Linked DNA regions of Homo sapiens: region 2 is linked to region 1. The links come from fine-mapping of genetic effects on gene expression. A gene starts in region 1. The other region holds a variant in brackets. All regions are shown on one strand. Distances are between the middles of the regions. Region 1 holds the start of MAP3K9 (mitogen-activated protein kinase kinase kinase 9). Region 2 overlaps MAP3K9 (mitogen-activated protein kinase kinase kinase 9).

Region 1 (2,904 bases):
GCATGGTCCCCCTGAGATTTGACCAGTTCCAAAGATAGGCAAGGATCTAGAATGAGAAGAAAGAAGAAAATGTATTTCCCAAACAGCCTCACTGTCAAAGGACTGGGATTCAGCCACTGTACCTTGCAATCCTGATCTCCCATGGGGGAACGACATACTTTTTCCTCTCTAATCATCACTTGTCTCACCCCCACTCTCAACACACACATCCCTCTTAGCACATTAATCAGTGAGACTCCTAAAGGTACAACTTCTGAGATATAAGAAATAGGATCCAAGAAATCAACCCGACATTTTACAGGCAACTGAGCCTTGAGTTCACACATGCTTCCGGGACTTGTGAGCCAGCTCAGCCCTGCGGAGACACCCCCATCTCTTTGAAAGCAAATGCCTTTAGGAGGCGGGGACAGGCGTTAGAAGAGGTGGTGGCAAGGTCCCTGATTTGGGGACTAAGGCTAGGACACTAACCACCATCTTGCCATAAACACTTCCAGATTGGGAATGGGGGGCGGCGGGGGGGTGGGTAAGAGAAGGGACTGGGAAACTGGCAAATTCTCAGACTGGGACTTCAGGATGTGGAAATCGGGAGCCACTGCTGAGGTGGCCAACTGAAGGTGAAGAAGCCCAAGCGTCTGAAGTGCGGGCAGGGCCTGAGGCGTCTCGAGCTTATCCAGCAAGCAAAGCCCGGGCAGCCTAAGCGCGCGCCACCCACACCCAGGTCAATCGTCCTCCCCACCCCCCGCCCTCATCCCAGCCCTCGCGCAGTGCTCCCCCCTTCCCCGACCGCCCCCCAGGCCTCCGTCATTCCCCCTCCCCGCCCGGCCCCGCCTTCGCCTTACACTGAATGGGCGGGTAGCAACTGGGGTCCTCGCCGCCGGGCTGGCAGCGGCTGGAGAAGGCGCTGCGCGGGGTCACGTAGTTGCTGGGGAAGATGCCCACCCGCTGGTTCAGCTGCCCGGTCCACCAGCCCTCGTCGCCGGACACCTGCGAGTCCTTGGACAGCACCTCCACCACGTCGCCCAGCCGCAGGGTCAGCTCGTCCTCGCCCGCCGCCTCGTACTCGAACACGGCCGTCCAGTAGGGCAGCGGCGCGTCGCAGCCCAGCTCCCCGGGGCCCACCGCCGCCGCCGCCTCCTCCTCCTCCTCCTCCTCCTCCTCGGCCCCGGCCCCTGCTCCATCCTCCCCCGGCGGGGCGGCAGCGGCGGCGCTCGCTAGGCAGCCGAGAAGCGCTCTGGAGGGCTCCATGGAGCGGCCGATCCATAGGGTGCGGGGCCGCCGCCGCCCGCAGGAGCCGCCGCCGCCTATTGTTCATGCGCCTCCGCAGAGCTGGGAGGACCCCCCCCCAACGACGGCGGCCGCAGGTAGGGCCCGGGCTGGCAGGGCTGGGAGAGCCGGCTCGCCGGCGCTGTTACCGCGGTACGAGAAGAGCGCCGAGCGCGAGCTCTTCGCGCAGCCTAGGGGCGCAGCGGGCCGAGTCCCCGCCTGCCCGCTCGCCCCCCCGGGGGCGGCCTCGTCACCTCTGCCGCCGGTACCTGCTCGCGCAGCCGGTGCCCGCCGCTGCCAGCCGGCCGCCGCTCTCCTCTCCGCGCCGTGCCGTGCCCCGCCCCCCGCACCGCCAGCTCGCCGGGACCACCTGACGCGGGCCTGGCTCCGCCCCAGCCCTGCGGACCCCAGGGGGCTCCGCCCCACGCCCGCCCCGCCCCGCGCCCGCTGCCTTCCCATTGGCTGCGGCCGCCCAGTCCCCGGTTCCTCCGCCGTGGTTGGGGCAGCCTAGCTGGCCGTCTCGCAGGTCCCTCTCACCCCCTGCGCCGCCGTCGCACCGTGCCCTCCCCCATTGCGGGCTCTGTCATTCTCAAACCCAGGTCGACCCACTCTTCCCGCCCACTGGCCCGCCGCAGCTCCCTCCATTGGCTCGCGGCACCTGTCCGTTTCCTGGGAGAGTTCAGCACCTCCCGGCAGGAAGAGGCTCCGGCCTCATTGGGTGCGTGAGAAGGGAAGGGTGGATCCTAAAAGGTAATACTGAGCCTTCATTCAAACTAAAAGGCTGGAAGGGAGGCAGCTGCCTTTGTTTGCCATGGATGGGTAGGGGCTGCACTGAGCAGCACCGGTGTTCTTCATCCGGCTGCACCCCCAACAGAGCTCTTTCTTCCCCAGATCCCTTTTACAGTTGGATTCTCCCTCTTGGATCTGGCTCTGCCTTAGTCCGACCTAGAGGGATCAGCTTCGCCCACGCCCACTCTCACCCGGAACCTTTCATCTCTTATTGAAGCCTTTTAGGCCCATTGGGATGTTCATTAGAACTCTGAAAACTACAGTTCTCCCCTTTATGAGGACTGCACCACAGCTCGCCCTCTCCTGGGTTCCGGTAAGAAGAGATTCCAATACCACTCTTTTTTCAGAATTCAGAAAGGCAAGAGACCACCTTACTGAGCTTCAAACTGGGGCTGGGAACGCTGCCATGAATTGGGCTTGGTCTGTCTGAAGGGAGCCACCTTTTCGACAATCCTTAGACTTCTTTTGCCTGTTGGAATTACACCTTGGATCGTGGCGAAGTCTATAGAGGTCAGATTAAGAAGAACCAAAGCAGAATAAACGTAGAACCCGATGCTGAGTTCACGAGTGAGGACGACCTCTTCCTATATGCTTTGCTATACCCTGCGTTTTGAACATTAAGGACGAGATAGGAGGCCCATAATGTTTCTTCTTGCTTTAATCCTGTCGTGGCAACGTTGACTTCCAGTAAGAAAGGTTCTCTGATCTTTTTTTCTCTTTTCTTTTCTTTTCTTTTCTTTTCCTTTCTTTTCTTTTCTTTTCTTCCAGGGTCTCAGTTTGTTGTCCAGGCCAGAGTGCAGTGGCGCAATCTCGGCTCACTGCAGCCTCAACATCCTAGGCTCAAGCCATCCT
Region 2 (2,904 bases), 23 kb before region 1:
TCTAGCTATGTGTTCTTGGGCAGGGCATTGTTAAACCTCCCTGAGCCTCAGCTTCCTCTGTTATAAAATGGGGATACTACCACCTCTTCCTGGAGTACCTCAGGTAGATACTGTTTCAAATAAAATTCTAAAGGACCAAATACAAAGCATGATTACAGGAGTCCCTCCTTATCTTCAGGGGACACATTCCAGGATCCCCAGTGGATGCCCCAATCCATGGATAGAACCCTGTATATACTGTTTTTTCCTATACATTCATACCTATGATAAAGTTTAATTTATAAATTAGGCACAGTAAGAGATTAACACTAACAATAAAATAGAACAACTATACTATAAGAAAAGTTTTATTAATGTGGTTTCTCTCTCTCTCTGAAAAGATCTTGTTGTACTGTATTCGCCCTTCTTGTGACGTTATGAGATGAAAAAATGGGTACGTGATGAGATGAAGTGCGCGGTAGATGACATAGGCGAGGTGACACAGTGACACAGTGTTTGGTACTCCCAACCTTCTGATGTGTAGTCAGAGGATCGTCTGCTTTGGATGACCCGGGATCATTGAGTTGTGACAATGTCAATGGTTGGATGTCAGGACAGACCATGTGGATGACTAATGGGCAGGTAGTACACCCAGTGTGGACATGCTGGACAGGATGTGATTCACATCCCACACAAGAAGGGGTGGGAAGGCGTGAGACTTCATTGCGCTACTCAGAATGGTGTGCAATTTAAAACTTATGAATCGTTATTTCTAGAATGTTCCATGTAATATTTCTGGACCACAGTTGACTATGAGTAACTAAAAACAGGGAGAGTGAAATGGCAGATAAGAGGGGACTACCATACTCTTTCTACTACCTCTAGGACTATTTGGGGGATGAAGGAAATGAGGGCCATGTATTACTGTCACCATGAATAATAAGCCAAGGAGAGTATCAGATAATATCAGGTTACACTAATAATCTTAAGTCATCTGAAGCTTATGTGGGAAAATTTTACGTCCTTAGTTGATTTTCCATTGCCATCCATGGGATGTGATGTGGCATCTCCCCTTGTCACTAGCTGCTGTGCATTTGGGCAAAGCAAGCTATTTTATTATTAATTTAATCCAAATACTTAGTAAGGGTAGGTCTCCTAAGGCAGGGGAGAGGGGAAAACAACTCTCTATCACACAACTGTGCCAATAACAGGGAGATTATTAACAATCCACTCCAGGATTCCCATCTATCTCTCAGCGGGGATTCCTATCTCTAAGCACAGGGAGCCAGGAGTCTACTGCTTAAGAAATAAAAAATGTTTTTATTATTCTTTTCTTCCTAAAAATTGTACCACCTAGAAGAATACTGAACACTGTTATCCTTCTACATAACATACCAAAGACCGAGTTCATGTTAGTAACCAGGAAAAACACTGACTTCACCCCAAACTTTGACCTTGGGACCTTACAAGGAAATTGTCCCCCTGGTTCCTCGAATGGGGTACAGATCCTGTTTCCACTGTTGTCTGAAATACTTTGGTCCTAGCTGGAAAGCCTGGCAGAGTAACAGTGTTCCATTGTCGGGCTAAAAGAAGGAACACTATCATGAGCATCAGGATGACCTTAGGCAAGTCACTCAGCTTCTCTAGTTCACAACTGTAAGGTTCCAGTAAGCTCTAATCATA[T/C]CTATAAGCAAAAAAGAAAGTCAAGAATGACCAGAATCCAAAATCTATCGCTATTTTCCCTACCCACAGTCCTTTTCTCCTTCCTCTTATTTATTGTTTTTATTTTTAGTTTTTTGGTTTTTCTTGGTACTCACTGATTAAGGCATCCTCCTTCCTCTTGGACCCTGAAGGTTAACAGAATGCAGAAACAAAAACAAATTTTAAGTGTCCAGATGGCATGTACACCGTGAATAAAACAGCAGGAGGAGATGAGGTATATAGATAAGAATAGGAAAGCCAAATATAAAGATGAAAACAGTTGTATCTGCACACTGGAATCTAGCATAACTATTTTTTTTTCCTTTTTCAATGATACTTTTTCCTGTTATATTGCCTCATAAGCCACATCAGCTTGCAGTCACAAGGATTTGCAGAGAAAGATCTTAACTATAAGATCAGTCACTGGCTGGGCGCAGTGGCTCACACCTGTAATCCTAGCACTTTGGGAGGCCAAGACGGGCGGATCACAAGGTCAGGAGTTTGAGACCAGCCTGGCCAACATAGTGAAACCCCGTCTCTACTAAAAATACAAAAAACTAGCTGGGTGTGGTGGCGGGCACCTGTAATCCTAGCTACTCGGGAGGCTGAGGCAGGAGAATCACTTGAACCTCAGAGGCAGAGGTTGCAGCAAGCCGAGATGGCACCACTGCACACCAGCTCGGGCAACAGTACAAGACTCTGTCTCAAAAAAAAAAAAAAAAAGATCGGTCATTGCCAGCATCCTGATGCCCACCTGCTGCAATGGGCCCCACTCCCAAACCTGCTCCAAGGGATGGATGGACAGTCAGTACCTTCACAGCTGGGCAATTCCAAAGACACACATTGGGCTTCTGACTTTACAAGCTACTCCAAGGAACACCTTCCTCTAGGGTCCCAAGCCCCTGAGAAGTTTATGAAATAGATATATAAAAGCAAAGGCTTGAAGAGAACAAACAAAGCTCATTCAGTAAAAGTGTTTTGAGTCCATCCAGAAAGGAACTAGGGACAAAAAAAAACACACAAACAAAACAAGATTTTTTGGTTGGCCACATTGGAATTGCCACCAAACACCTGGGCTGCTACATGCGAAGTCCTATACTAGGGATGATGTGAGGGGAGACAGAGATGGGGGGAGCAAGGGAAGACGAAGGGATGAAAAACAGCAACACCTCTGCTGTCCAGAATTCTATTGGGATTTCTATGTTTTCATAGAAAAAAAGTTAT

The links. PIP is the estimated chance that this variant, and not a neighbour inherited with it, causes the effect.
Region 2: its variant is fine-mapped to the expression of MAP3K9 in whole blood (INTERVAL, PIP above 0.99).

What each region holds. Positions count from the first base shown.
Region 1 is chr14:70,807,927-70,810,830 of GRCh38, forward strand. It overlaps MAP3K9 (mitogen-activated protein kinase kinase kinase 9), which reads right to left and starts at 1,587. Exons shown (of 12, transcript NM_001284230.2): 1 at 840-1,587. The coding sequence starts at 1,245. MAP3K9-DT (MAP3K9 divergent transcript) reads left to right here and starts at 858. Exons shown (of 2, transcript NR_184164.1): 1 at 858-1,361. RefSeq lists an enhancer at 149-208 and a silencer at 1,149-1,788.
Region 2 is chr14:70,785,122-70,788,025 of GRCh38, forward strand. All of the region lies in intron 2 of MAP3K9 (mitogen-activated protein kinase kinase kinase 9), which reads right to left. Among named protein-coding and RNA genes, the nearest start is that of MAP3K9-DT, 22 kb to the right of the region's middle. The variant T/C (reference allele first, on the strand shown) is at 1,663.